Regions from separate parts of the Homo sapiens genome. Here region 1 is linked to region 2. The links come from fine-mapping of genetic effects on gene expression. A gene starts in region 2. The other region holds a variant in brackets. All regions are shown on one strand. Distances are from middle to middle.

Region 1 (15,574 bases), 120 kb after region 2:
ATTACAGGCGAAAGCCACCTCAACCAGCCTCGTTACTTACATAAATCAGTAGTGCAAGACAATCTGTTATAAGTGACATGATCAAAATTGATACTTTAGGAGTCAAGGTTTATCTTTTTTTCTTTTTTATTATTTTTATTTTTGCCCCCCCCCTTTTCTAGCTGAAAATTCTATACTTTCCCATTTGAAAGTTCTTAGAAAAACAGTTCAACTAGTTGCTTCCTAATTCCTTCCATTTATTTTGTAGTATAGAATTCTAATAATGGGCCAGGTGCCATGGCTCATGCCTGTAATCCCAACACTTTGGGAGGCCAAGATGGGTGGATCACTTGAGTCCAGGAGTTCGAGACCACATGGGCAACGTGGTGAAACCCCATCTCTACAAAAAATAGAAAAATTAGCTAGGTGTGGTGGCACGCACCTGTAGTCCCAGCTACTTGGGAGGCTGAGGCGGGAGGATCATTTGAGCCCAGGGGGTCAAGGCTGCAGTGAGCCAAGATTGTGCTACTGTGCTCCTAGGCAACAGAGTTGAGACCCTGTCTGAGAAAAGAAGCTAATATTTGTATCTCTAAGAATTGATAACTACCTTCCTTTTTTTAAAGAATGTCTTACTCGATCAGGTAAATCTTGAATTTTTCTTTCTTTTTTTTTTTAAGAGATAGGGTTTTGACATATTGTCCTGGCTGGTCTCAAACTGCTGGGCTCCAGTGATCCTCCTGCCTTGGCTTCCCATAGTGCTGGGATTACAGGAGTGAGCCACTGCGCCCAGTCTTGGATTTTTCTTGCTATCATTTTCTTAAGATGTCTTCCTGATCTAGAGTTGGCAGGCAGCATTCTGAAGCAAGTTAATTTTTTCCTTCCATGATGAAGCAGATAAAAACTGTAGTGTACACACTCGCGCTATCCCACCCCCCTTTTATTACTCTGTACATGCCTTTGAGTCAGTAAGCTAATTCAGTTAGTAAATTCATGGGGTTTTTTTGTTTGTTTTTTGAGATAGGGTCTCGCTCTGCCACCCAGGCTGCAGTGCAGTGGTGCGATTTCAGCTCCCTGCAACCTCCGTCTCGGGCTCGTGATTCCTCCCACCTCATCTCCCAAGTAGCTGGGACTAAAGGCATGCACCACCACACCTGGCTAATTTTTGTATTTTTTTGTAGAGATGACCTTTCGCCATGTTGCCCAGGCTGGTCTCAAACTCCTGAGTTCAAGCAATTTCAGGCCTGATCGTTTGCCTCAGCCTCCCAAAGTGCTGGGATTACAGGATGAGCCACCATGCCTGGCCAAATTCACGATTCTTTAGGATCCTTGATTTGTTATTTTTCTTTTTGTTCCTACTTTGTGGCTATTTTGGTACCTGCACTTAAATGTGAGAGTGCAGAGGGAAGGGGAAAAATAGATACAATTTATTCTTAGGGTAGTTGAGAAAAGTAATTAATTGGTGAAGAATAAAAATTTTTTAGATTTGAAATAGCACTAATAAATTAAACTTACAAATAGTTCTCAAATCAGCTTTTAGCATTACAGCCTTAAGTTCTTACTTTTAAAGAGACATTTTCTTCCTAATGTCTAACCATTGGTACCATTTTGCTGCCTACACTGTTTCATATAGAGAGTGTCGTTTAACTGTTAAAATTTACTGAAACAATTTTTCCCCAGGGTCTTATTTTTGTGGTAGATAGCAACGATCGTGAAAGAATTCAGGAAGTAGCAGATGAGCTGCAGAAAATGGTAAGAAATATACTTTAAATTCATCATTTTCAAGGTGTGCTTTTCTGGATTAAACTGGTGGTGGTTTAGTACATTTTGACTATGATTAGATTACACAAATGGATTGGGGGGGCTAGAAATAAACTTAAGAAACTATATTATCCACAGGTTCTTAATAATGTACTTCAAAATCTCTTATAGAGCGTTTTAAAAAACACATGGAAGAGTAGCTACTTCAGTAAGTTGGGAGGAAGGCAGAGCAGTGTTGTTTTTTTTTTTTTTAGAATGCCTCATGGGTAATCTTGATGCCTATCTCTGGCTGAGGATATCTGATTTAGCTCAGTCCCTTACTTTACAGATATCAAATCTATAGTGCTGTAGTGGTTTTGACCCTAGGAATCTTGGTTCAGATGTTTTGTTCCCAAGGTCATCGGTTCCATTTTCTCTATGCTGTGCCAATAATTACTTCAGAAATGTTTTTTAATAGTAACCATTTAAGGATAAGGAATTCCTTCTGAAAGTAGAGACAAATGTTTGGTTCACAGTGGCATTTTGCAGCCTTCCCATAGATTGGATTAATGTTTTCATGTGTTCATGTTGTTAAATGTACTAAATGGAGGAAGACTGCTGAGAATCCTTGTCATGATTTTAAACTTGTAGCCATAAAATATTTACTGAAATGAAATCTTAATTCTTGTTCATTCCTCCTAAGATTAGAGGGCAGTTTGTAAAACCATTGTGCCAGTATATGTGTAACTAAGTCATTGTTGGATTTTTGCCTGAGTCAAATGTCACCAGCTTTCCCTCTTCAAAAAAAAAAAAAAAAAAAAAAGCTTGGTTGAGACATACTTCACACACTATAAATGTCATCCTTTTTAAATGTGCATATCAATGGCTTTTAGCATACATAGTTGTACAACCATCATCACAATCTAATACTAGAAAATTTTCATCACCCTCAAAGAAATCTTGGACCATTAGCAGTCATTCCCATTTCCTTCCTCTCGTACACCACACTCCCAGCCTCTGACAGCCACTAATTTGTCTTTATACAGTCACCTATTCTGGACATTCATATAAATGAAAACATACAATGTGTTCTTTTGTGACTGATTTTTTCACTTAGCATAATTTTTCAGGGTTCGTCTATATTGCATCATGCATCAGTACAACTTCTGTTCTTGGTACTTTTTTTTTGTATATTTCATGATACTGCCAACACCCAGATAATTGTGTTATTGTCCCACTGTTGTTGGAAAGGATAGAAGTCCGAAAAGAATCATCATCTATCTAAGTACTTCTGCTACTAAGTACCATAAGAACCTGCCATAAACATTTTATTCCCACATGTATTTCTTGCCCTTATCAGTCCTGACAATGGGTAATCATGAAGGCTGAATGATGAGTGATTTGCTTTAATTTAATGGGGTGTAGGATGATTGACTTGGAAAACAGTTCTGTCTTATTTGAAGGCATATGATTGTTTGCTCTGGATTTAAAAACTGAAGGATATGAGACTTCAGTTGTAAGAGTGAACTTTGTGTCGAGAAATTAGGTTAATGTTTAATAATGTATTTAATGCTGAGTAAAGTATATATAGGAAGACATTTTCAAAAATTGGATTCCGGTTGGTAGTTGTTAATGCCTTACCTTTTATTTCCAGCTTCTGGTAGATGAATTGAGAGATGCAGTGCTGCTACTTTTTGCAAACAAACAGGATTTGCCAAATGCTATGGCCATCAGTGAAATGACAGATAAACTAGGGCTTCAGTCTCTTCGTAACAGAACAGTAAGTATTTGGAGGTTGATATTAACCTCTTGACTATTAAGACTTACTAGGATAGTTGTGTAAGCTAATATTCAGTTTAAACATTTATTATCTCCTTTGGACAAATAATGAGCACATCATTTATTTAAAAATATGGTAATAAACTTTAAATACCTTATTTGATTTTTGTAAAGAAACGGAAAACTACTGTAGAATAGGTCTAAAGATTATTGATAGTTTCTTTTTTCTTTTTTTTTTTTTTTGAAGGGAGAGGTGGAAGGAATGGAAAGAAGATTATTGATAGTCTTAATTTTAATTTTGTATCTTTTAAGTAACCCTACAGCAAATATTTTGAAATCTGGCTTTCTTATTAAGGGTCCAGTAATGTTTGTTTGCTTGTTTTAAAAGTGGAGATGGGGGGCTGGGTGCGGTGGCTCATGCCTGTAATCCCAACACTTTGGGAGGCCTAGGTGAGCAGATCATCTGAGGTCGGGAGTTTGAGACCAGCCGGACCAACCAGGGAGAAACCCTGTCTCTACTAAAAATACAAAATTAGCCAGGTGTGGTTGCGCATGCCTGTAATCCCAGCTACTCAGGAAGGCTGAGGCAGGAGAATCACTTGAACCCAGGAGGTGGAGGTTGCGGTGAGTCGCGATCGCGCCACTGCACTCCAGCCTGGGCAACAAGAGCGAAACTCGGTCTCAAAAAAAAAGTGGAGATGGGGGGTCTCGCTTTGTTGCTAGGCTGGTCTTGAACTCCTGGACTCAAGCAATCCTCTCACTATCTCAGCCTACCAAAGCGCTGGGATTCCAGCCATGGTGCCCAGCCTTGTTTGCTTGTTAACATAACAGTTTATGGAGGAGACCAGGTACCACGGCTCACACCCGTAATCCCAATACTTTGGGAACCCAAGGCAGGAGGATTGCTTGAGGCCAGGAGTTCCAAACCAGCCCGGGCAACAAAGTGAAACCCTATCTCTACAAAAATAAAAATTAGCTGGGTGTGGTGGCATGTGCCTTTAGTCCCAGCTACTTGGGAGGCTGAGGTGGGAGGACTGTTTGAACCCAGAAGTTGGAGGCTGCAGAGAGCTGTGATTGTGCCCATTGCACCCCAGCCTGGGTGACAGAGCAAGACTGTTTCTTTAAAAAAAAAAAAAAAAATTTGTACTTCTCTAAAATTGCTTATCATTGATCAGTGATTCAGTGATGGAGATAAATTATCAGAAACTTAGTGTCATAGGCTTTTTACAGTAGTTTTGCATTAACCTGTAAATAAGGGAAATACTGTGGCTGTGGTAAAAAATGAAACAAACAACAAAGAACCTATTGCAGGCCGGGTGCAGTGGCTCACGCCTGTAATCCCAGCACTTTAGGAGGCTGAGGTGGGTGGATCATGAGGTCAGGAATTCAAGACCAACATGGCCAAGATGATGAAACCCCATCTCTACTAAAAACTACAAAAAAATTAGGTGCAGTGGCAGGCATCTGCAAGCCCAGCTACTCTGGAGGCTGAGGCAGGAGAATCACTTGAACCCAGGCAGCAGAGGTTGCAGTGAGCCGAGATCACGCCACTGCACTCCAGCCTGGGTGACAGAGCGAGACTCCGTCTCAAAACAAACAAACAAACAAAAAAAAACAACCTATTGCCTGTTTGAGATATCTCAGGCTGATTTGAAGAACATAAACTGGGCCGGGTGTGGTGGCTCACACCTGTAATCCCAGCACTTTGGGAGGCGAAGGTGGGCGGATCACTTGAGACCAGGAGTTCGAGACCAGCCTGGGCAACATGGTAAAACTCTGTCTCTACTAAAATTACAAAAATTAGCTGGTCGTGGTGGTGCATGTGTGTAACCCCAGCTACTTGGGAGGCTGAAGGCACGAGAATCTCTTGAGCCTGTGAGGCGGAGGTTGTAGTGAGCCGAGATCACGCCACTGCACTCCAGTCTGGGCAAGAGTGAGTACTCTGCCTCAAAACAATCAGTCGATCAATCAATAAATAAGCAAGCAACACTAACTGTAAATGATACAAGTTTTCCATGCTGTGAAGGTATGAATTTGAGCCTTTCCCCAGCCTCCTAGGTTACTGAGATTTGGTATTCAAATAATTGGCAACATGGTATACCTGCAGTGGCCTTGCAACATTAAACTGGTCAAAAAAATTAATAAAAGTAAACTATGCCTTAAATGTAAATTGTTTTCTAGGTTTTTTTTGATACTTTCACACAGTTACTAGAGATAAGATTCGTTGCCATTTAAAAGCAAGAACGTTTTGGAATGCATGAGACTAAAGATGGTGAAATTGTCTGAAAAGCTTGCCCTTAAAATATCAACAAACCCTACTCTTTCTTTCTTTCTTTTTTTTTTTTTTGAGATGGAGTCTTGCTCTGTCACCCAGGCTGGAGTGCTGTGGCACGATCTCGGCTCACTGCAAGCTCTGCCTTCTGGGTTCATGCCATTCTCCTGCCTCAGCCTCCTGAGTAGCTGGGACTACAGGCGCCCACCACCACGCCCGGCTAATTTTTTGTATTTTTAGTAGAGACAGGGTTTCACTGCGTTAGCCAGGAAGGTCTCGATCTCCTGACCTCATGATCCATCCGCCTCAGCCTCCCAAAGTGCTGGGATTACAGGTGTGAGCCACCACGCCCGGCCTAACAAACCCTACTCTTTCAAAAATTTGCCTCTTCTACTTTGAGTTTAGTTTTATGGGAAACGAGAGTTATAAAAACCAGATGGGTAGTTTATTAGTTACTAATTTCCCCATGATTTCTTTTTTCAGATTAAGTGGTAGAAAGTTTACTAAAAGGGAACCAAAAACCAGCACTGAAAAGAAAGCTGAATGAGGGGGGAAAATCTTGTCTAAATATAATGAATAGGTAGAAGTAGCTTGATTGATTGAGACGGAGTCTCACTCTGTCGCCCAGGCTGGAGTGCAGTGGCACAGCCTCGGCTCACTGCAACCTCCAGAATAGGTAGAAGTGGCTTTATTTTTAAAAAATAATTTAATCTAAAAAAGTAGAGACAAAGTCTCACCATGTTACCCAGGCTGGTCTCGAACTACTAAGCTCAAGTGATCCTCCCATCTCCGCCTCCCAAAGTGCTGGGATTTATAGGTGTGAGCCACCACGCCCAGCCAGAAGTAGCTTTAAATATGGGAGAGTTTTGTGAGATGCAAGAGGTGTGAAAAGACTCTTAAGTTTGATTAAGAAAGTTTAAACACTGGTGTTATATATTAACTTTGTTAATCAAGTATTTTCTTGTCTTCTCTTTACAGTGGTATGTTCAAGCCACTTGTGCAACACAAGGAACTGGTCTGTATGAAGGACTTGACTGGCTGTCAAATGAGCTTTCAAAACGTTAAATGAAATTGGATATCTAACCAAGGACATGTTTGATAAAATTGGTCTAGGCTTGTTACAACAAAATTAGTTTGTATCTTGGTTATTAAACAGTATCTGGGACTGGTTTGGGCAGAATATTAAACTTATTTTGTTGCCAATTATTGTTTACCGAGTATAATGTTGCTATTTAGCAATGTGCTTGGTTTTAAAGAAATTCTCCTTGGGAAAAAAGTATCCTCTTTTAATTTTACTTCCCATAAGCGTAAATGCCTGGACATAGCTCTTGTGCAACCTTTAAATAAATTGTTTTGAGTGTTTTTTGAGCCCCAGACAAATAATGTTTTAAAGTTATCCCCTTGCTACTTTACTGATACCTTTATCATTCCTGAGACAGTTTGCTAATTTAAAAATGTAGCATTCCATTTGTATTTATTTCTCTCCCTTGCCAAAAAGATTTTCTAATACTGCTTGTACCAGCCAGAGAAAGATCCAAAACACTACTCAGCTCTCTTGCACTGAGGAAATTTTTCCCCCTACATTGACTCCTGGCCTACATCAGCCAAACTTAACCTTGGTGGGGTTTGGATTTGATAGCCAATTAGTTCTGTGCTGGTTGCAAAGAATTGATATTTAGATGGTTTTTAATACTCAGCAGATTGTCTTCCTTTATATTGTGTCTTTTTTATGTTGCATGTTGCTTTTGTTATCAGCCTGATTTTTTGCTCAGTATATGATAGTTCTGCTGATGTTTTGTTTATTGGGCAGACATATCTTCATTAAGAGTTTTTGGAAAACTCATCAAATTCGATGAATACATTTTCTTCATAACCCATTTGGAATTATTCCTAATAAAATGATAAAATACGTAATTGTGTGTGTTCTTTTTGAGTTTTGAAGGTATTTGAAATGTATTTTCTTATGTAGCCAACTTTGCTTGCATATTTTATGTACTGTGAACAGTAACACAGATCCCACTGGTAGGTTACTAATTGTATAAAGTGGAGATCTAGATTGTTTTCATGTGTATAACAGCATGGGGAACACTATTAAAAACATAGTTTTCTAAAGTCAGATCAAGGGTAAAAGGAGGGCCTGGCATGGTGGCTCACGCCTGTAATCCTAGCACTTTAGGAGGTTGAGGCAGGAGGGTCACTTGAGAATAGGAGTTTGAGATCAGCTTTGGCAATGTAGTAAGACCCTGTTTCCCCTGTCTCTACTTAAAAAACTAAAAACAAAACAACAACAACAAAAAAATCAGGTGGGGGGTGGGGAGGGGCGGCATGTGGAGTGGGGTAGGGAGAGTAAAAGGCTGTAATAAAATGAACTGCCCAAAAAGCATGTATGTATGTGTTTTTTAGTTAAGGTTAATTAAACAAAAAAATTCAGGTGCTACTTGTATGGCCAATATAGAGACTTAGTGATGCTACTTTCCTACAAAAAAGTTTCACAACCACTTTTCTTTTTAACAGGGCAAATTTTAGAACTTTAACAGAAAGCTGCATATAATTCATACAAAGGTATACCTCATAAACTACATCTATTAAGTTTTAAGGGCTCAACTTGATAACTGAGTAACTTAGTTTCTGTCTATATTCTCATGTTGCATTCTTAATGGCTTGTAAAGATTCAGCTAAATTTATGGATTGAAAATTCCAAAATCAAATGCATACTTTTAAAAAAATGTATATTTTTGAATTGTCAAATAAATAACAATGGCCAGGCGTGGTGGCTCACACCTGTAATCCTAGCACTTTGGGAGGCCAAGGTGGGCAGATTGCCTGAGCTCAGGAGTTCAAGACCAGCCGCAACATGGTGAAACCCCATCTCTACTAAAAATACAAAAAAAAAAAAAAAAGGGTCTGGTGTGCTGGTGCATGCTGTGGTCCCAGCTACTTGAGAGGCTGAGGCAAGAGACTCGCTTGAACCTGGGAGGCAGAGGTTGCAGTGAGCCAACATAGCGCCACTGCACACGGTCTGCAAGACTCTGTCTCCAAAAAAAAAAAAAAAAAAAACACTGGATTAACCAAAAGGAAATTAGAATTGGTTGATGATTAGGTAGGGCAAAGTGTATGTTTAGTTTGTGTTACTTGTTAGAAATGCAATTTCCCTAGCCAACTGGATGAATTCTCCTTTCTTCCTTCCAAAGAAGACAGGTGTCATTTCCTATAGGATAAAACTGAACTATAGTATAATTGTTGTGTGTGTAGTCTTATGGGGCATCAACTAGGAAATATAAAACATCAGTGAATAAGTTCAGCGTTAGGGCTAGGTATTTAACCTAGTTATGCAAAGGTGTTTACATGGACTGTAAAGGGACTAGAGAATCTATGTAATCTTACTCGTGATGTAAAGCAGCTCTTAGTACCATTGGAAATTACCTTTTTTTTTTTTTTTTTTTTTTT[G/TG]AGATGGTTTTACTCTGTCACCCAGGCTGGAGTCCAGTGGCAGGATCTTGGCTCACCGAAACCTTTACTTCCTGGGCTCAAGTGATCCTCCCATCTCAGCCCCACAAGTAGCTGGTACTACAGGCATGAGCCACCATGCCCAGGTAATTTTTATAGTTTTTAAAGAAAGTATTAGGCTGGGTGGGGTGGCTCACATCTGTAATCCTGGCACTTTGGGAGGCCGAGGCAGGTGGATCACCTGAGGTTGGGAGTTCAAGACCAGACTGACTAACAAACATGGAGAAACCCCATCTCTACTAAAAATACAAAACTAGCCATGCATGGTGGTGCATGCCTGTAATCCCAGCTACTCGAGAGGCTGAAGTGGGAGAATTGCTTGAACCTGGGAGGTGGAGGTTGTGGTGAGCCAAGACCGCACCATTGCACTCCAGCCTGGGCAATGAGTGAAACTCCGTCTCAAAATAATAATAATAATAAAGTATTAGCAACTTGACACATTTACCCCTAAAAATTATTTTTTCTTCAGTCTTTGTATTTTTTTTTAAAGTTCCTTTTTTTCTTTTTCCAAACAGAAGTGGTTTAAATGTTTTGGGAGAAAGTATTGAGAGATAACCCCTAGCCTTTCCCTGTTTTATGCAAACATAAAATCACTGTCACTGTCCTTATTTATTGAAGTATTATGAAATAGTTGATGCTATCAAGATTCAATGCTTACTGTTCATTCAAATGTTAAACCTACTGTTGGTCAAGCAATAAGAGTTCTCTGTGACCGCCCCTATTGTACAGAACAGTTGATTATATCCCTAGATTAAAAAGTATTCTGTCAACTAATTGTCAAATAATGTCAGTAGAGAAACTGAAGAGAAATTGTGATTCCCTTACAGGATCACTTGGCAGCATCAGAGTTGAGGATAGTACGATTATCTGCTCTCTGGTTCCCCTGTCCAATAAGCATTTTTTTTTTTTTTTTTGTCCATAACATTTCCCATTGTCTTTTGTCTCACTTTAACATAAGCTGCTTTTCTGTGATGTAATATCTTGATATTTTGTTAAGAGTTTCAATTTCCATGAAATTTTCCACTTACCTTATATACCCTCCATTGAAAATAAAAAAGGCATGGTAGCTCATGCCTGTAATCCCAGCACTTTGGGAGGCTGAGGCGGGAGGATCCTTTGAGGCCAGGAGTTTGAGACCAACCTGGTAAATATAGTGAGACCTCCATCTCTATTAAAAAAAAAAAAAAAAGAAGTGTATCTTTTGTGGAGAGTATTGGTGTCTCATTCAGACACTTCAGTTTACTTGAGTATACAGAATTATCTTTCAGGCAGTAGTAATTACTTTCAGGTCACTTACTATGATCAAACTTTTTTTTTTGAGACAGGGTCTCGCTCTGTCGCCCAGGCTGGAGTGCAGTGGCATGATCACAGCTCACTGCAGCCTCAACCTCCCAAGCTCAAGCGATCCTCCCACCTCAGCCTCCCACATAGCTGGGACTACAGGCCCACGCCATCAGTCTTGGCTAATTTTTGTAGAGATGGGGTTTCGCCATGTTGCTTAGGCTGGCCTTCAACTCCAGAGTTCAAGTGATCCACCCACCTAGGCCTCCCAAAGTGCTGGGATTACAGGTATGAGCCACTCTGCCTTGCCCAAATTTAATTAAATGTGAAATACCTGGTTCTTTGTCATGGAGGTTTGAAAGTGACTCCTAACTTGTCATTGAAAACAAGTGCTTTACTTTTTTTTTTTTTTTTTTTTTTTTTGAGATGGAGTCTCACTCTTATCACCCAGGCTGGAGTGCAGTGGTGTGATCTTGGCTCACTGCAACCTCCACCTCCCGGGTTCAAGCGATTCTCCTGCCTCAGCCTCCCGAGTAGCTGGGATTACAGGCACACACCACCATGTCCGGCTAATTTTTGGTATTTTTAGTAGAGATGGGGTTTCACCATGTTGGCCAGGCTAGTCTTGAATTCCTGACCTCAGGTGGGATTACAGGTGTGAGCCACCGCATCCGGCCAAGTGCTTTTCAATGGGGAGAAACTGGAGAGAACAAGTGCTTGTACCTTCTGGTAGCTTGTACTTCTGGATGTTTCAATAATGTAAATATTGGTTACCAGCTTTGGTAGAATTAGTATGAAAACTAGATTGAATAATAACAGTCTGTAAGTTCATTACCTGAGGATCTAATAGGGAAAATATATTTCTACTAGTATATACATGTGACATTGCATTCATGGGCCACTACTGGAAGGTTACTTGGCTGCTGTTATTTCTTACTATGCTACTTTTAGAGGACTATCCCTTTATCTTAAATGGTTAAATTCTAATAAGATTGTGAGAAATGAATAGCAGAAGTGCTTATCTAGACACAGGCAAAGAATAATTAAGGTAGCTGTATTATTGGATGCCTGCCAGTATGGCTTCATGTGTTAGAGGCAGCGGAGTTAGGTTCCTTCCTGACCTTGTCAGTCATTTTTCTATATTGTTCAAATGATACATTTTCAATTTTTTTTTTTTTTTGACACGGAGTCGTGCTCTGTCACCCAGGCTAGAGTGCAGTGGCATGATCTCAGCTCACTGCAACCTCTGCCTCCTGGGTTCAAGCGATTCTCCTGCCTCAGTCTCCGGATTAGCTGGGACTACAGGCGTGTACCACCACGGCCAGCTAATTTTTTTGTATTTTTAGTAGAGACGGAGGTTCACCATGTTGGCCAGGCTGGTTTCAAACTCCTGACCTCAAGTGATCCAACCGCCTTGGCCTCCCAAAGTGCTAGGATTACAGGCATGAGCCACTGTGCCCGACCACATTGTCAATTTTATTGGGCATGTAAGTACTTGGTGTTGGACAGCTTATCCTTGCTTTCTGGGAACTCACCAGATTTTGGTTACAGTGTTTCTTTTTTTTAGGCTGGGAACTAAAGGGATGTATGAAGCACAGACTAAGAAAGATTTGCCTCCCGGATGGTCCTGAAAAGGCAAGGGATGATGGATTATTATATTATTTATTTTTTAAGGAGGGGTGGCTAAACAACAAATAACATTTTTAAATGGGCAAAGTATTTCAAAAGACATTTCTCCAGAGATATATAGATGGCCAACGAGCACATGAAAAGATGCTTAACATCGTTAACCATCATGGAAATGCAAATCAAAACCACAATAAGATGCCACTTGACACTAGGATGCCTATAATCAAAAAGATAATAAAGTGTTAATGAGGATGGAGGGAAACTGGAACCCTCATATTGCTTGGTGGGAATGCAAAATAGTGCAACTGCTTTCCGTAAGTCTGGCAGTTCCTCAAAAGGTTATCACAGCACCCAACAATTCCATTCCCTGTATGTGCCCAAGAGAAACAAAAACACATATTCACTCAAAAACTTATCACAAATGTTTATGGCAGCATTATTCATAGAAGCCAGGAAGTGGAAGCAATTCAAATGTCTGTCAACTAATGAATGGACAAATGTGGTACGTCCATAAGATGGAACATTCATCATAAAAACAAACTCCTGATACATCCTACAACAGTAAGAACCTTAAAAACATCCTAAGTAAAAGAAGCCAGTCACAAAAGACTACATAAATTATGATTCAATTTATATGAAATGTCCAGAATAGGCAAATCCACAGAGACAGGTTAAGTTGTTGCCAGGAGCTAGGGAGAATGGGGAGTGACTGCCAAGTGAGTATGCAGCTTCTTTTGGGGGCCAGTCCTTGTCAACTGAGTTGATATGCAGTGACAAAAAAAGCTCTTAAGGAGAGTGGGATTATGTGACGTGAGCCACTGTGCTGGCCTGATTCCATTATTTATAATAGAATTATTAAAAACTCTACAGCTGGGATAGAAATACCCTTTCTTGGTTTAAGATACCCAAAACACTATAGCCCAGCTTTTCTGAGGAAGGCCACTGTTTATTTCTAACTGATTTTATCTTTGGATGTACCATTTCTCCAAACTATTCCACAGGGGATATAAGAATTATATGCAATAAATCCTTTTTTTAAAATTTTATTTTATTTTATTTTTGAGACAGAGTCCCGCTTTGTTGCCAGGCTGGAGTGCAATGGCGTGATCTCGGCTCACTGCAACCTCTGCCTCCCGGGTTCAAGTGATTCTCCTGCCTCAGCCTCCCCAAGCAGCTGAGACTACAGGCGCGCGCCACCATGCCCAGCTAATTTTTGTATTTTTAGTAGAGACAGGGTTTCACCATGTTGGCCAGGATGGTCTCGATCTGACCTCATGATCCACCGGCCTCAGCCTCCCAGAGTGCTGGGATTACAGGCGTGAGCCACCGCGCCCAGCGCAATAAATCCTTTTAAAAGTGTGTATATCACATTTTAGAATAACTGAGAGAGTACAATTGGAATGTTCGTAACACAAATGAATGCTTGATGTGATGAATACTCAATTTACTCTATCAAAAGAAATATGTCCCACATAAATATATACACCTACTATGTACCCATAAAATGTTTTTAAAAGTTGATAAATATGTTTTTTTCTGGAGAAAAAATTTGTTTTTAATTTTTTTAAAAAAAGGGCTATGTGTGCTGGCTCACACCTATAATCCCAGTACTTTGGGAGGCTGAAGCGGGAGAGTCATTTGAGCCCAGGAGTTTAAGACCAGTCTGGGCAACATAGAGAGACCCCCATCTCTACAAACAATTTAAAAAATTAGCCAGGCATGGTGGCATGCACCTATAGTCCCAGCTACTCAGGAGGCTGAGGTGGGAGGATCGCTTAAGCCCTGGAGTTTGATGCTGCAGTGAGCTATGATCATGCCACTGCGCTCCAGCCTGGGCAACAGCAACACCCTGTCTTATTTAAAAAAAAAAAAAATGTGTGCTGACTGGGTGGGGTGGCTCATGTCTGTAATATCAGCACTTTGGGAGGCCGAGGTGGGTGGACTGCTTGAACTGAGAATTTCAAGACCAGCCTGGGCAACATGGTGAAACCATTTTTTTTTTTTTTTTTGCCTATAAAATATACAAAAATTAGCCAGGTGTGGCGGTGCGCACCTGTAGTCCCAGCTATTTGGGGAGGCTGTGGTGGGAGGATTGCATAAGCCCAGGAGGTGGAGGTTGCAGTAAGCCGTGATGGCACCAGTGCCCTCCAAGCCTGGGTGACAAAGCCAGACCCTGTCTCAAAAAAGAAAAAAAAAGTGTTTATATTATCCAGTATAAGAAAGCCAACTAAATAAAGCCTATCCATTTCCCCTACTGAACCATCTTCAATATATAAGGAACACAAATGGTATGAAACTAGCACAAATGCAACCTAGGAATACTTCAATACACTAAAAAAAAAGTACATCAATACTTCATGATAACATCATTAAAGTGAATTACTGGGCAAAATGGACTGTGTTATATAAATGCTTTGACATACATTCATTACATAAATTGGACAGAAGATAGAGATGAATAATTCAGTTTTCTGTGAAATTTTGCGGGGAAATTTTAAATTATGAGTAAAAATCTAACACTGACAGTATGAACATGGATTTTTGACAACCCAGAATTTGCTAGCATAGCAGATAGGTGAACAGATTTACTATATTTAAGATTATTTTGCCATTTATATATAAAATTAAAATTTAGGCCGGGTACCGTGGCTCATGCCTGTAATCCCAGCACTTTCAGAGGCTGAGGCAGGCAGATCACTTGAGTTCAGGAGTTCAAGACCAGCCTGGCCAATATGGTGAAACCCTGTCTCTACTAAAAATACAAAAATTACAAGCAGTACTGTATGGTTATTTTGAAGTTAGTGCTAAGAAGAAAAATAAAATCACGAAGTTAATACAGCTCTAGTATTTTTAACATTTAAAAAAGTACTTTCATATAAAGTGAGAACACAGAACTTATATATTACCCATGTCAGTTAAAGCTGTTAAAAATTGTCCTCCCTACCCCCTACAACATGAAATCTAGAGTGGTTTTTTGAAGACAGGGTCTTGCTCTATTACCCAGGCTGGAGTGCAGCGCACCTTGATCACAACTCACTGCAGGCTTGACCTCATGGGCTCAAGTGATCCTCTGGCCTCAGCCTCCTGAGCAGCTGGGACTACAGGCATGCACCACCATGCCTGGTTAATTTTATTTTTTGCAGAGATAGGGTCTCACAATGTTGCCAAGGCTGGTCTTGAACTCCTCAGCTCAAGTGATCCTCCTGCCTCAGCCTCCCAAAATGTTGTGATTACAGTCAAGAGCCACTATGCCTGGCCCTCTAGATAGTGTTGCCTTCCTGTACTATATTAAGCAAATTATTAAAATTCTCAAAACACTGAAATATTTTTTATTTGTGTTTAAAAAATTCATTTTCAGGGCTGGGGGAGGGATAGCATTAGGAGAAATACCTA
Region 2 (15,574 bases):
TGCTGCCTCAGCCTCCCAAGTAGCTGGGACTACAGACATGTGCCACCACGCCTGGCTGATTTTTGTATTTTTAGTAGAGACAGGGCTTCACCATGTTGTCCATGATGGTCTCGATCTCTTGACCTTGTGACCCGCCTGCCTTGGCCTCCTAAAGTCAAGATGCTTTTTTAAAGTGCATTCATGGCCGGGCGCGGTGGCTCACCCCGTAATCCCAGCACTTTGGGAGGCCGAGGCGGGCAGATCACGAGGTCAGGAGATTGAGACCATCCTGGATAACACGTTGAAACCCTGTCTCTACTAAAAATAAAAAAAATTAGCCAGGCGTGGTGGCAGGCGCCTGTAGTCCCAGCTACTCAGGAGGCTGAGGCAGGAGAATGGCGTGAACCTGGGAGGCAGAGCTTGCAGTGAGCCGAGATCGTGCCACTGCACTCCAACCTGGGTGACGGAGGGAGACTCCGTCTCAAAAAATAATAATAAAATAAAATAAAGTGCATTCATTCATTCATTAAATATTTACTGAGTGCCTGCCACATGCCAGGCATTGTATCAATAATAAGAATGTAAAAACGAAAACAAAAAAACAGCTCTTCATTATTTTTTCTTTCTTTCTTTTTTTTTTGGAACGGTCGAGGGGACAGCATCTCACTCTGTTGCCCAGGCTGTGCAGTGGTGCAATCACAGCTCACTGCTGCTTTGACCTCCTGGGCTCATGTGATCCTCCAGCCTCAGCCTCCTGAGTAGCTAGGACTACAGGTGTGTGCTGTCATAATTCTGGCTTTAAAGAATCCTCTTGCCTTGGCCTCCCAAAGTGCTGGGATTAGAGGTCTGAGCCACCACCACACCCAACCACCATTTTTTAAAGCTGTCACAACCTGGGAAAACTTCATAGTGCATTTTATTTTTTATTTTATTTATTTATTTTTTTTAGATGAAATCTTGCTCTGTTTCCCCGGCTGGAGTATAGTGGTGAAATCTTGGCTTACTGCAACCTCTGCCTTCCAGGTTCAAGTGATTCTCCTGCCTCAGCCTCCTGAGCAGCTGGGATTTCAGGCGGATGCCACTATGCCCAGCTAATTTTTATATTTTTAGTAGAGATGGGGTTTCACCATGTTGGCCAGGCTGGTCTCGAACTCCTGACCTCAAGTGATCCGCCTGCCTTGGCCTCCCAAAGTGCTGGGATTAAAGGCATGAGCCATGGCGTCTGGCCCTGATCGTGCATTTTATAGTTTTCTTTGGCTGGATCCTCCCTTCAAAATCTGTATTTGAGCATTTTTGTCTTCCAGAGAAGTACAGCAGTAAACTTAGTTTTCTATTGATAACACATTGGTATTGGGCCTCTGTGTATATTTCCATGTATTTTTTTCACCACCGCAAGTATAGTTATGTCCCAGCAGCCCTGGCAGCATTTACCTTAAGTGCAAGAGGGAAGTCCCCTGGCTGCCCATCTAGGTAAATATCTAGGACATTTGGACTCCCTGTGGGTCCTTTTGGTAAAACTAAGCCCAGAGACCTGATAATGCATTTCACAATTCACACCATTGTCTGATGCTCAACCTTTTATTTTTTCTTTCTTCTGTTAAAACTATTGAATTGCCAGGATTTTGGTTAGGGGTGAGTAGAGAAGTTTGGAATGTTTTTAATCCTGTGTTCCATGTTCTTGGTAATATTAGAAGAGCAGCAGAGCCATGAATCTAGTCATGCTCTTGGCTAACACAGTCTACCCTGACTTAAGTGCTCCTCACATGAAAAGAGATCCAGGGCTTTAGTTGACAGTAAATACAACCTGAGCCAGTGATGTGACCTGGCTGCCAAAACAAGTAAATGTGATATGAACTGGCATTAAAAGAAGCCTGGTGGCTGGGACAAGGAAAGGAATAGTCCCAGAGTACATTCTGCAATGTTAAGATCACACCTGGAGGATGGTATTTCCTCCCAGGCTGTAAGAGTGATGTTGACAAGTTGGAGTATGCCCAAGTTGGGCAACAGGATGATGAATGGCCTAGAAACTACATCTTTTGAGGAACGGTTGGAGGATGTGGGGTAGTTACCCTGAAAACTAGAAGGCATGTGGGTGTGGGATAACTATTTTCAAACGTTCGCAGGGTTATCATGTAGAAGAGTTGGACTCTTCTGTGTAATCTCAGCAAGCACAACTTAGACCAATGGGTGTGTATTACAAAGTAGCTGATTTTGTCTCTGTAAAGGGAAGAACTTTCTAGCCCTTATGAACACCCAGAAAATAGTAGCTCTGAAAGGTAGTTACTTAACTTTATTTATTTATTTATTTATTTATTTATTATTTTTGAGATGGAGTCTTGCTCTTGTCGCCCAGGCTAAAGTGCAGTGGTGCTATCTTGGCTCACTGCATCCTTCACCTCCCGGGTTTAAGTGATTCTCCCACTTTAGCCTCCCAAGTAGCTGGCATTACGGGAGCACACCAACACACCTGGCTAATTTTTTGTATTTTTAGTAGAGACAGGGTCTCACCACGTTGGCCAGGCTGGTTTCAAGCTCCTGACCTCAAGTGATCCACCTGCCTCAGCCTCCCAAAGTGCTGAGATTACAGGCGTGAGCCACCACGCCCGGCTATTTATTTATTTATTCATTGAGACGGAGTCTCCCTCTGTCGCACAGGCTGGAGTGCAGTGGTGTGATCTCAGCTCACTGTCACCTCTGCCTCCCCAGATCAGAGGATCCTCCCACCTCAGCCTCCCAAGTAGCTGGGATTACAGGTGTGCACCACCACACCTGGCTAATTTTTGTATTTTCACTAGAGACAGGATTTCACCATGATGGCCAGGCTGGTCTGGAACTCCTGACCTCAGGTGATCCACCGGCCTTGGCCTCCCAAAGTGCTGGGATCACAGGCTAGTGACTTAACTTTAATAGAGAGTGTTAGAAAAGAGGCTGGCTAACTGAATGTCAGAAGATCCATGAATAGGAAGTTTGGAGAGATGATCCTATCCAAGATCCTTTCAGAGTCAAAGGTTCTTTTGATGAACCATAAGAAGGTGTCAGTACCTTGTTCCTCAGCTCCCATTAACAACAGAAACTGTGTGAAAATAGACTGTAAGGCAGAATGTCAAAGTTACGAAGGTAGAGGGAAATAAAGCCATAGCTGCTTTGTTTACCCTAGTGGTTATTCTGTTTCTGTGTATAAAGATTTAAGTAATGCTTTTTTCTGTTTTTGTTTTTTTTCTCCCCAAACAAGTTTTTTACTTTCAAAATTCTCTAGAGCTTTGGTGTGCTTTCTTTCTTTGGAAACTTCTGGCTCTCCTAATATGTTGTTTTCAGGGTACTGTATTTTGACAAGATCATCCTTAACCCAATATTATAAAGCAACACTTCACAGAATCGCAGTTTGTGTCTATGCGTCGAAGAACCAGCCCTGTGGAACAACTTATGTTCTTTTTTGGTGCTGGTTTTTGACACAGGGTCTTGCTGTGTTGCCCAGGCTGGAGTAGAGTGGCACAGTGATGGCTCACTGCAGCCTTGACCTTCTCCTTAACCCAATATTATAAAGCAACACTTCACAGAATCGCAGTTTGTGTCTATGTGTCGAAGAACCAGCCCTGTGGAACAACTTATGTTCTTTTTTGGTGCTGGTTTTTGACACAGGGTCTTGCTGTGTTGCCCAGGCTGGAGTAGAGTAGCACAGTGATGGCTCATTGCAGCCTTGACCTTCTGGGTTCCAGTGATTCTCCTATCTCAGCCTCTCAAGTAGCTGGAATTATAGGTGTGTGCCACCATGCCCAGCTAATTTTTAATTTTTTTTTAAGAGACGGGGCCTCCCTATGTTGCCCAGGCTGGTCTCAAACTCCTGGACTCACGTGATTCTACCGCCTCAGCCTCCCAACGTGCTGGGATTACAGGTGTGACCCACTGTGCTTGGCCACAACTGGTGTTTTGAGATCATTAATAATTAATAATGAAGTAGCATCTGGTAAAATGTGTACATTAGGATAGCTTAGCTTTTCCCAACAGTCAGTGAGGTGAGTTAGTAATCATCACTCTCATTTACCAGAAACTGGGTTTTGGAGCAGCTTGCCTACCACGATCGTGGTAGATTCTAGCTGGCACTAGAATCCAGAACTTTTGACTTCCACGCCAGTGTTCTTTCTAATACAAAAGGCTACTGTTCTTTCCTAATACTGGGTTTAGAGCCTTACTTGATCGCAGAATACAGTTTTTCCTCTTTTAACCACAGCAGTTCTCTGGAGTAGGATGGCAGGCTACTTTGGCCAAAGACTTGGCCTCTAACTTAAGTGCTGTCCCTAAGTTCATTTTTGTCTAAAGGAAGTCTCCAGCAAACGTCACTACTGATGTCTGTGCATACTTGACCACCTCCTTGAAAACAGGGACGCTAACACTTGCTCCAAAAAAAAATTCTAAGAATGTTAAGAGGGCAGTATTTGTCAAATGGAATGGATTTCACTGGGCAGTGCAGCAAAATGCTTAAGTTCTGCCGTGTTTTTTGTTTTGCGTTGTTTTTTAGAGACACAGTCGCGCTCTGTTGCCCAGGCTGGAGTGCAATGGCTGTTCGCAGGCGCGATCATAGCGCGCTGCAGCCTGGAACTCCTGCTCAAGCGATCCTCCTTGAACTTAGCCGGCCTCAGCTTCCCAAGAACCTGGGACTACAGGCGTGACACCTCGCTGGTTTACTCATTTTTCTGTTGAGGTATTATTGTGTGTTTCCTACTTTTACTATGCTATTTATACTCAACATAGTAGGTGCTGAATAAATACTAGTTAGTATCCTGGCTGGTCCAATACTCAGTAAAAACTGATCTCAGAATACGAAGCTGCTTGAGACCAGGCCCTTGCCCCAGTGTTCAGAGATCCACAGGTTGCTGTGGAGGCCAATCTGCCCAACCTGGAGTTCCAGAAAGGTCTGGGGATGTGTGTTGAGTGAGTCACAGACAGCCAAACTAAGAAAGGAGGAGGTGGTAGGGTGGGGAGGCCTTGCTGGAGAAGGAACAGGTGAGTGAATGCACAGATCTCTGAATCAGCAAACTGAATGAGTGAACCGCAAGCCGATATCGGAGTTGTCATACTTGTTGGGCTAGTCATGTAACCTCCAGGACCTCCATTTCCTTATCTGTAAAAAGAAATAAATAGTCTACTTATTTGCGATTATGTGAAGATTCAATAAGGTAATATTTGTAAGTATTCGCACTTGTACTTGGCATATCAACTGGCACAAAGTAAGCGTTCAATGTTAGCCACCGTCACCATTATGCGTTCATATATTTTATTTTTATTTTTTTGAGACGGAATCTCGCTCTGTCGCCCAGGGTAGACAGAATACAGTGGCGCAATCTCAGCTAACTGTAACCTCCTGGGTTCAAGCGATTCTCCTGCCTCAGCCTCCTGAGTAGCTGGGATCACAGGCGCGCTCCACCACGCCTGGCTAATTTTTTCGTATTTTTAGTAGAGACGGGGTTTCACCATGTTGGTCAGGCTGGTCTCGAACTCCTGACCTGATGATCCGCCCGCATCGGCCTCCCAAAATGCTGTGATTACAGGTGTGAACCACCGCGCCCGGCCTACGCTTTCATAATTTAATAATACCTTATAATAATTATGAACTGTGTCATTCCACGAATAATTTATTCCCTGGTCGTTGACTGCGAACGAGGTTGACAAGGATTCATAAACAGCCATTTCAGTCCCAAAGAGCTTTTAGACAAGGAAGCCAGGACCGGCTTCACAATCCGAGACAAGCGGCAGCGTGACGTCCCCACGTCCGCTCCCAGGGTCACGTGACCCGCAGCCCCGCCCGGACTGAGTGGGTCCCCAGCGGCTGCGACAGCAGCGTCTGCGCCTGCGCGGAGGCAAGCGCGCTCTGCGGCGCGGTCCGCTGTGGAGGCGGCGCGAACGGTCAGGGGGCGGCCGATGGCTTTGAGGGGCCCTGCGGGCTTGGGGCCCGGCTCTCGAAGGCCGTTGGACGAAGCGGTGGCAGGGGCCGAGGGCCGCGAGGCGCCGGCCCTTGTGGCGGCGGGAGGCGCGCCAGAGGACGATGAAGAGGACGATGGCCGTGGCCGGGGCCTGCTGCGCTGGGACAGCTTCTCCGCCTGGCTGCACTGCGTGTGTGTGGTGGGCTTCGACCTGGAGCTGGGCCAGGCCGTGGAGGTGAGGCCCGGCCCCGCCCTTTCTCGGCGCTCCTCCCCTGCGCCGGGGCGGCTGCAGCAAAGCCAGCGGCCCGCGGGCTGACCGGCCAGGACCCTGTCCGCGGCGCATCCGGGCGTGGCCAGTCTCCCCTCCCGCGCTCTTTCGGGCTGCGGTCCTACGGCACTTCCCGTGGGAGGATCTTGGGCTGCGGCTAGGGGTGAAAAGTTCTCTCTAGGCCCCTCCTAAATACTTGTTGATGTTCATCCTGTTCTTTCTTTATTTCTTTTAAACGCAGAGTCACAGAATTAACTAAAAGGGTTAGTAGCACCCACCCGGAGAAGCCCGCAGGCAGGATGTTTGTTTGGTACTTTTTCAAGAACAATGCCCATAACAGATGATGAACTCTAGTAGCCGAACTTGCACAACCAAGTTTTAAGGCTCAGATTGTTTTAGTCATTTGCAGTAACTGTTTGAGCGTTTCCCTCAGCCTGAGTCGAAATGCTTATCTCAGCACGCATTTTCTCCCTTTCCTCCTTTTGTGCCTCATTTCTGTTTTTTTTTTTTTTTTTTTTTGAGACGGAGTTTTTGCTCTTGTTGCTCAGGCTGGAGTGCAATGGCGCGATCTTGGCTCACCGCAACCTCTGCCTCCCGGATTCAGGCAATTCTCCTGCCTCAGCCTCCCGAGTAGCTGGGGTTACAGGCATGCGACCATGCCCGGCTAATTTTGTATTTTTAATAGAGACGGGGTTTCTCCATTTTGGTAAGGCTGGTCTCGAACTCCCGACTCAGGTGGTCTGCCCGCCTAGGCCTTCCAAAGTGGTGGGATTACATGCGTGAGCCACCGTGCCCGGCCTCATTTCTGTTATTTTTTTTTATGTTGCCTCTGGAACAGTTGGTGTGAAACTACTGTCAAGATGAATATAGGGAACATCATTTGCTTGTCAATCAGTCAACTTTTCCATTCTTATGTATGGCCCCTTACCGAAAGGCTTTAGAAACATCTATTCTTGACGTTGTTGAAGGTCTTTTTAGCATAAGGAATTGCTTGCTTTCATGTGTCCAAGGAAATTGTTATCAGAAGGGCGTTTGTTTAGACGTTTTGGTTTTGGTTTTTTTTTTTTTTTTTTTTTTTTGGTATTGGTGACAGATTTCGATTTCATTAATACTGTAGTGGCCTGGTTGACTAAGAAAATTGGCTAGGGGTAGTTTTCTTAATGCGAAGCTACTGCTTTCGTATTCGGCCTGCCTTCTGGATGTTTTATTATAACACAGTTCAGCGACATTAAGTTTCCACTAAGAACCAGGCATTATGTTAGTTGTGGAGCATACAAATAGGATGTGCTCTAATCTGTATTTGTAGATTGAGGCAATAATTTAGAGGAGAACCAAGAATTAATCATAGTAGCTGATAAGGCCAAATGCAGTGCCTGGCACCTAGTGGCATTCTATAAATACTTTTGATAGAATAGGTGAATATGTGAGCAATTCTTTATCTTATTAAAGTAAGAAAAACAGTTCCCAAAGATTTTGAGTAAGAGATTTATAAGCCATTTATTATTCACCTTGCCATGTTAACCTGAAGTTATATGTACAGCAAGATACAATTTAACCAGAAAGCATAAGAATGGGTTGTTGTAGTTGATTGTGTTTTTAAATAGCTAAAGGAGATTCTTTTGGATTCTCATTATTTGGGACATTCTTTATAACGTGAATATGTTTTTTGACCAAATAAACAGAAAATATATTTGAGATGCTGCAAAAATGTGAATTATTAAAGGACTTATTTTGAATTTCATTTTCCATAGTGTATGCCACTGTATAGAGTTTTTTCTAGGTCAGGAGTTCTTAACCTTTTGCTTCCTGGATCTTTTAAAAATATGAACATTGTGAATTTTCCACTAGGAAAAGGCTGAGTAAGATGAAATCATGTATGTGGTTCCATATATGTGGTTTCCAGCTATTTAAGACATAAACCTAGTAGGGCTTCAGAAAATGGCTAGAGTTCAGAACCAGGGAAACCTCTTGGTTTTGCTCTTTTTTTGTGTGCAGATCTTGTTTATATTTCATGTTCCCTGCAAACTGCCTTCTTCCCCTTCTCTGATTTTTTTTTTTTTTTTTAAAGACAGAGTCTAACTTTGTCAGCCAGGCTGGAGTGCAGTGGTGTAATTTCGGCTCACTGCAACCTCCACCTCCCAGGTTCAAGTGATTCTCCTGCCTCAGCCTGCCAAGTAGCTGGGACTACAGGTGCATGTCACCATGCCCAGCTAATTTTTGTTTTTTGAGAGAGAGAGTCTTGCTCTGTTGCCCAGGCTGGAGTGCAGTGGGGCAATCTCGTCTCCCTGCAAGCTCCGCCTCCCTGCAAGCTCCGCCTCCCAGGTTCACGCCATTCTCCTGCCTCAGCCTCCCAAGTTGCTGGGACTACAGGCACCCGCACCACGCCCGGCTAATTTTTTGTATTTTTAATAGAGACGGGGTTTCACCGTGTTAGCCAGGATGGTCTCGATCTCCTGACAGTGTGATCTGCCCACCTCAGCCTCCCAAAGTGCTGGGATTACAGGCATGAGCCACCGCGCCTGGCCTGCCCAGCTAATTTTGTTTTTTTTGTTTTTTTGTTTTTTTTAGTAGAGACAGGGTTTCACCATGTTGGCCAGGCTGGTCTTGAACTCCTGACCTCAAGTGATACACCTGCCTCAGCCTCCCAAAGTGCTGGGATTACAGGCGTGAGCCACCGCACCTGACTTTTTTTTTTTTTTTTCCTTAGAGACATGGTCTGCCTCAGATTGGAGTGCAGTGGCATGATCATAACTCACTACAACCTCGAACTCCTAAACTCGAGGGATCCTCCTGAGTATCTATGAATACAGACATGCACCACTACACCCGGCTATTTTTAATTTTTTTTGTGGGGACAGGGTCTTGCTATGTTGCCCAGGCTGGTCTCAAACTTGTAGCCTCAAACTGTCCTGCTGCCTCTGTCTTCCAAAGTGCTGGGATTATAGGTGTTGAGCCACCATGCCCAGCCCTTCTCTGATCTTTAAGGTGAGAAGCTAACGTTTTTAGCCACTTCAGTGAAAAAGAGTGAATCTTTAACTCACTTCCAAAGCCAGAGGAAGATAATCTGGCCTGGTTTGGGGCAGGTTCCTACTCTGATACAATTGGCTAAAGCCCTGAGTAGAAGGGGGAGTGGTTCACCTTGCATAAAATGTCTTTTAAGGCCCTGTCCTAAGTGAAGGGGGTTAAGGAGGTCTTTGAGCTAGGAAGAAACTGAACAAGGTGTTGACTGCAGGGGGTGTGCTGAGCTTCTTTTCCCCTGAAGTGGCTCTGGAGGCATTACCACAGAATCAAAGTGTCCTCTGGAACAAGGTTTGAAACCTCCTGGGTTTGATATACTGTACCTCACTTTTAGCTTTGAAATTACCAATTATTTAGTAAAGCCTTAATTATCCGAATACAGAATTACCTTATTTATTCAAGTTTTTTTTTTTTTTCTGAGTGAATAATAACATACTCATTGCTGAAAACTTGGCAAGTAAAGAAATCATAAACACTAGGCCGGGCATGGCGGCTCATGCCTGTAATTCCAGCACTTTGGGAGGCCGAGGCGGGCAGATCACGAGGTCAAGAGATCGAGACCACCCTGGCCAACACGGTGAAACCCCGTCTCTACTAAAAATACAAAAATCAGCTGGGCGCAGTGGCATACACCTGTAGTCCCAGCTACTCGGGAGGGTGAGGCAGGAGAATCGCTTGAACCTGGGAGGTGGAGGTTGCAGTAAGATCGGGCCACTGCACTCCAGCCTGGCGACACAGCAAGACTTTGTCTCAAAAAAAAAGAAAAATTATAAACACTAGAAAATATCACTCTTAATTCTACTAAGAGGCAACTGCTATTAATATTCGGCATTTTTGTTAATACTTTTTTTCTTTATATAATTTTGTATCTGTCAAGGATTAACTTGATTGTTAGGAACAGAAACCTCAAATAAACTTAAGTAAAGGGACAGTGATTGTAAGGATTCCAGGCAGTCTTTTGGAATCCAAGTGTGTGGGAAGCAAGGATGAACCTGTGGGATTTGGAAAGCCCCAGGCCTTTGTCTCTGGAGCTGTGTGTTTTTTTTTGTCTTTGGTCTTTGCATGTCTGTTCTTTTCTCCATGCTGAAGCTGGTTTGTGCTGCAGTGGCCTCAGTTTCTGCTCCCCCGTTACTCTGCTTGACTTTGGGTTTCCATGGTACTAATTTTAGCCAAACTCTTTTTCTGGAATGAGGCTGAAGCTTAATATTGGAGTATCTGATTGGCTCAGCATGGGACAGGTGTCCCATTTTGTTCACTTGTGGTTAGGAGACAAGGTTTCGCTAGCAGTAGCAGTCACTTAGGCTCACCCCTGCAATAGGAGGGACACTTCCAAAGCATAGTCTGGGCAGCAGTCTCCTAAACATGTCTACTGTGAGTCTGCTTTTATTCATAAATATTCTCATAAACAGTTTGTAAGATGATTAGACTCTTAATAAGCCGAGTGTGGTGGCTCATGCCTGTAATCCAAGCACTTTGGGAGGCTGAGGCGCGTGGATCACTTGAGGTCAGGAGTTCGAGACCGCCGTAGCCAACATGGTAAAACCCCATCTCTAATAAAAAAATACAAAAATAGGCAGCTTGGTGGCACATTCCTGTAATCCCAGCTACTCGGGAGGCTGAGGCAGGAGAATCGCTTGAACCCGGGAGGCAGAGGTTGCAGTGAACTGAGATCATACCACTGTAGTCCTGCCTGGGCAACAGAGTAAGACTTTGTCTCAAAAAAAAAACAAACCCAAAAAACAAAAAACTCTTCATAAATATAATTTTACAAAGCAGATGTTCTTTTCTTTTTTTTTTTTTTGAGGTGGTCTTACTCTGTCACCCAGGCTGGAGTGCAGTGATGCAATCATGGCTTACTGAAGCCTTGAACTCTCGGCTCAGGTGATCCTTCTGTCTCAGCTTCCCTGGTAGCTGATACTGCAGGCATATGCTTATGCACCAGGCTAATTTTTAAATTTTTTGTAGAGATGGGGTCTTGCTTTGTTGTCCAGGCTGGTCTCAAATTCCTGGCTTCAAGGGATCCTCGTGCCTCCACCTCCTAAAGTGCTAGGATTACAGACATGAGCGACCACACCTGGCTGTCATCCTATCCTTTGAAACTTTGAAGCCAGGTATTGACTTTTCTCTAGCTATGAAAGTCTTAGAGGGCATAGTCTTCCAACAGAAGGCTATTTCATCTACAATGAAAATCCGTTATTTAGTGTAGCCACCTTCATCTTTTCTCTTAGATTTTCTGGATAACTTGCTGCAGCTCTCTATCAGTCCTTGCTGCTTCACCTTGCACTTTTATGTTATGGAGACAGCTTCTTTCCTTAAACCTCATGAACCAACTCCTGCTAGCTTCCAACTTTTCTTCTGCGGATTCATCACCTCTCTCAGCCGTAACAGAATTGAAAAGAGTTGCGCTCTTGCTCTGAATTAGGCTTTGGCTTAGGGAATGTTCTAGCTGGTTTGCTCTTCTATCCAGACCACTCAGACTTTCTCCACATTAGCAGTAAGGCTGTTTCACTTTCTTATCATTGATGTGTTCACTGGAGTAGCATTTTTAATTTCCTTCAAGAACTTTTCCTTTGGCTGGGTGTGGTGTCTCAGGCCTGTATTCTCAGCGCTTTGGGAGGCTGAGGCAGGAGGATTCCTTGAGCCCAGGAGTTCAAGACCAGACTGGGCAACGTGGTGAGACCCTGTTGCATAGAAAAAAAGAAAGAAAAAAAGAACTTTTCCTTTGCATTCACAAGTTGGCTGTTTGGTCCAAGAGGCCTAGCTTTTGGCCTGTCTCAGCTTTTGACATGCTTTCCTCATTAAACTTAAATCATTTCTAGCTTTTGATTTAAAGTGAGAGATGTGTGACTCTTCCTTTTACTTGAACACTTAGAGGCCATTATAGAGTTATTCATTGCCCCAGTTGCAAATATTGTTGTGTCTTACGGAATAGGGAGGCCTGAGGAGAGGGAGAGAGATGGGGTAATGGCTCGTCAGTGGAGCTGTCAGAACACATGTATTTATTGATTAAATTTGCCATCTTATATGGGCATGGTTTGTGGTGCCCCCAAACAATTACAATAGTAACATCAAAGATAACTTATCACAGACCACTGTAACAGATACAATAGTAACAAAAAAGTTTGAAATATTGTGAGAATTACCAAAGTGTAACACAGAGACACAAAGTGAACACATTGTTGGAAAAATGATGCTGATAGACTTGCTTAATGTAGGCTTGCCACAAACCTGTAATTTGTAGAAACTGGTAACTGCAAAGCACAATAAAATGATGCACAATAAAACAAGGTATGCCTATATTAATAAAAGGAGAAGGAAGAATGGTATTGGAAGGCAACAAGCATTTACTGCCTTACCTGAGAGCAGTTATAATCTTATGTAATCAAAGATTTATTTTGAAAGATTTCTAAGCTTGGGTTTTATGATATAAACTTTAGTAACTTTGAGCTGTTTGAGAGCCAAGGGTATATGTGCCTGAAAATTCTACACCATTATGTAACTTTGAAATAAAGGATTATGTTCTGTTTTACCTGGGATATGGAAATATCTGTTAATGCTTATTGAAAATGAGGCTAAACATTTATATCTTGGTAAATTTAGGCTATTTTTGTATTATTGGGATTCTATTTATTTTGTTCTTCTTATCATAAGAATCATCTGGGGCATTTGTTACATATGAGGATTCTGGGGCTCACCCATCTGCTTAATCAGAATCAGTTCCAGAGGATCATTATGTGTAGGCATGTTTGGAGTATGTTTTTTAATTTTCTCTTTATATAAACTTTTCTGTTTTTCTTGTAAACCAGCTGTTGTCAAAATGTGGTCTGAGGACTTCTGGGCATCTCTGAGACCGTTTCAGGGGATTTATAGGATGTTTTCAAACTATGTATGGCTTTTCTTCATGTTCTTCAACCAGAACAACATATTGCAATAGAATGAACATAGAATGATTCTGCCAAGAGCAAACATTAAAGAAAAACAAATTTTTTTTTAAAAAAAAAGAATGAATGCTGAAGCAGATATGAGAATCTAGTTATTTCTGTTAAATCAGACATTAAAGATATTTGCAAACATGTAAACAATGCCATCTTAGTAAGGTTTTTGTTTTGTTTAGGAATACAGGTTGTGTGTTCCTAATCTAAACATTCAAAATCTGAGACGCTCCAAAACCTGAAACTTTCTGAGTACTGACATGATGCTTTTTAAAGGAAATGCTCATTGGAGCATTTTGGATTTCAGGTTTTTGGATTTGGGATGTCCAACTGAGTAAGTATAATTCAAATATTCTAGAATCTGAAAAGATCTGAGATCCAAAACACTTCTGATCCCACCAAGCATTTTGGATAAGGAATACTCAACCTGAATATAGTTACTTTTCATAAAAATTGAATATGTTAATGAGTAATAGGTTATTATTTTAAAATAAATAAACAATTTTTTTTAATGATACTTTTAGTTTCTACAGTGGTGAATGTTGATAGATATAACTCATATAAACAAGAATTCTAGGCTGGACGTGGTGGCTCACGCCTGTAATCCCAGCACTTTGGGAGGCAGAGGCAGGCAGATCTGCTGAGGTCAGGAGTTCGAGACTAGCTTGGCCAACGTGGTGAAACCCATCTCTACTAAAAATACAAAAAAAAAAAAAAATTAGCCAGGCATGGTGGCGCATACCTGTAATCCCAGCTACTCTGGAGGCTGAGGCAGGAGGATCACTTGAACCAGGGAGGCGGAGGTTGCAGTGAGCCGAGACTGTGCCATTGCACTCCAGGTGTGTGCCACCATGCCTGATTAAATTGTTTTATTTTTGTGTTGCCCAGTGTGATCTTGAACTCCTGGACTCAAGGGAACCTCCTGCCTCCACCTCCCAAAGTGTTGAGATCCCAGGCATGAGCCATTGTACCCAGCCTCATTTATTCCTTTCCGTCACTAATTATTAAGTAATATTTGGACTTTATTTATTTATTTGAGACAGGGTCATGCTGTGTCACCAGGCTACAGTGCACTGCAGCCTGGACCTCCCAGGCTCAAGCAATTCTCTCACCTCAGCCTGTCAAGTAGCTGGACTACAGGTGTGTACCAACATGCCTGGCTACTTTTTTGTTTTTTTGTAGAAACAGGGTTTTGCTGTGTTGCCCAGACTGGTCTTGAACTCCTGGCCTCAAGTGATCTGCCTGCCTCAGCCTCCCACAGTCCACCTGCCTTAGCCTTCCAAAGTGCTGGGATTATAGGCATGAGCCACCATGCCTGGCTTTAGACTCTTTTCTTGAAACAGAGTCTCGCTTTGTCACCCAGGCTAGAGTGCAGTGGCACGATCTCAGCTCACCGCAACCTCTGATTCCCAAGTTCCAGCGATTCTCCTGCCTCAGCCTCCTAAGTAGCTGGGATTACAGGCACGTGCCACCGCACCCAGCTAATTTTTGTATTTTTAGTAGAGACGACGGGGTTTCACCATGTTGGTCAGGCCGGTCTCAAACTCCTGACCTCGTGATCTGCCCACCTTGGCCTCCCAAGGTGCTGGGATTACAGGCATGGGCCACCGTGCCTGGCCCATAAACTCTTTTTTTTTTTTTTTTTTTGAGACGGAGTCTCACTCTGTCACCCAGGCTGGAGTGCAGTGGCACAATCTTGGCTCGCTGCAACCTCCACCTTCTGGGTTCAAGCAATTCTCTGCCTCAGCCTCCTGAGTAGCTGGGATTACAGGTGCCCACCACCACACCGGGCTAATTTTTGTATTTTTAGTAGAGATGGGGTTTCACCATCTTGGCTAGACTGGTCTTGAACTCCTGACCTTGTGATCCACCCGCTGCGGCCTCCCAAAGTGCTGAAATTACAGGCATGAGCTAAACACTTTTTAAATAAGGGAACTGGAACTTAAAGAGGTAACTTGCCCCATATCACTTGCTTAATAAGCCAGGATTTGAACCCTGGTCCTTTTGATTCTGAAGCCTAATTTCCCCCCACTATACTGTGTTGTTTACTATTTAGGGAAACTGAAGCAAAGAAGATGTGAAATGCTAGCGGTAGCTTGAACTAAAATTCTTAAATTCTTGGTAGTAATAGTTTACCTCATTTCTCAAAGTGTTCCTGTTTACATGCTAATACTCAGTGTAATAATAGTACCCAGGGCTATTTTCTGAGTTGTATGAACTGCTTTTAGCATTTTTGTGATCCTTTAGTTGGCAAAATGCTTTACCGTCCTGTGGAATGCACAGTAGATACTTGCTTCTGTTTGGACAAAAGACCAGCGTGACCTATGTCAATGACATAAAGTTGGATTTCCTGAAGGTAGGGTTTCTAACTGATAATAGTTTATAGCCATGGGCAGATGAAGTGAGATGATAATAGTTCTCATTTCTAGTGTATTGTGAGGATTAATTGATACAATACA

What was found. PIP is the estimated chance that this variant, and not a neighbour inherited with it, causes the effect.
Region 1: its variant is fine-mapped to the expression of DENND6A in whole blood (INTERVAL, PIP 0.98).

What each region holds. Positions count from the first base shown.
Region 1 is chr3:57,563,470-57,579,043 of GRCh38, reverse strand. It overlaps PDE12 (phosphodiesterase 12), which reads right to left. Exons shown (of 3, transcript NM_177966.7): 3 at 12,196-15,574. It overlaps ARF4 (ARF GTPase 4), which reads left to right. Exons shown (of 6, transcript NM_001660.4): 4 at 1,657-1,728; 5 at 3,371-3,496; 6 at 6,746-7,681. The coding sequence ends at 6,832. Among named protein-coding and RNA genes, the nearest start is that of PDE12, 15 kb to the right of the region's middle. The variant G/TG (reference allele first, on the strand shown) is at 9,215.
Region 2 is chr3:57,683,340-57,698,913 of GRCh38, reverse strand. DENND6A (DENN domain containing 6A) reads left to right here and starts at 5,837. Exons shown (of 20, transcript NM_152678.3): 1 at 5,837-6,132. The coding sequence starts at 5,896. DENND6A-DT (DENND6A divergent transcript) reads right to left here and starts at 5,709. Exons shown (of 2, transcript NR_135550.1): 1 at 5,572-5,709; 2 at 2,263-5,098. RefSeq lists silencers at 5,838-5,937, 6,048-6,287 and an enhancer at 6,009-6,509.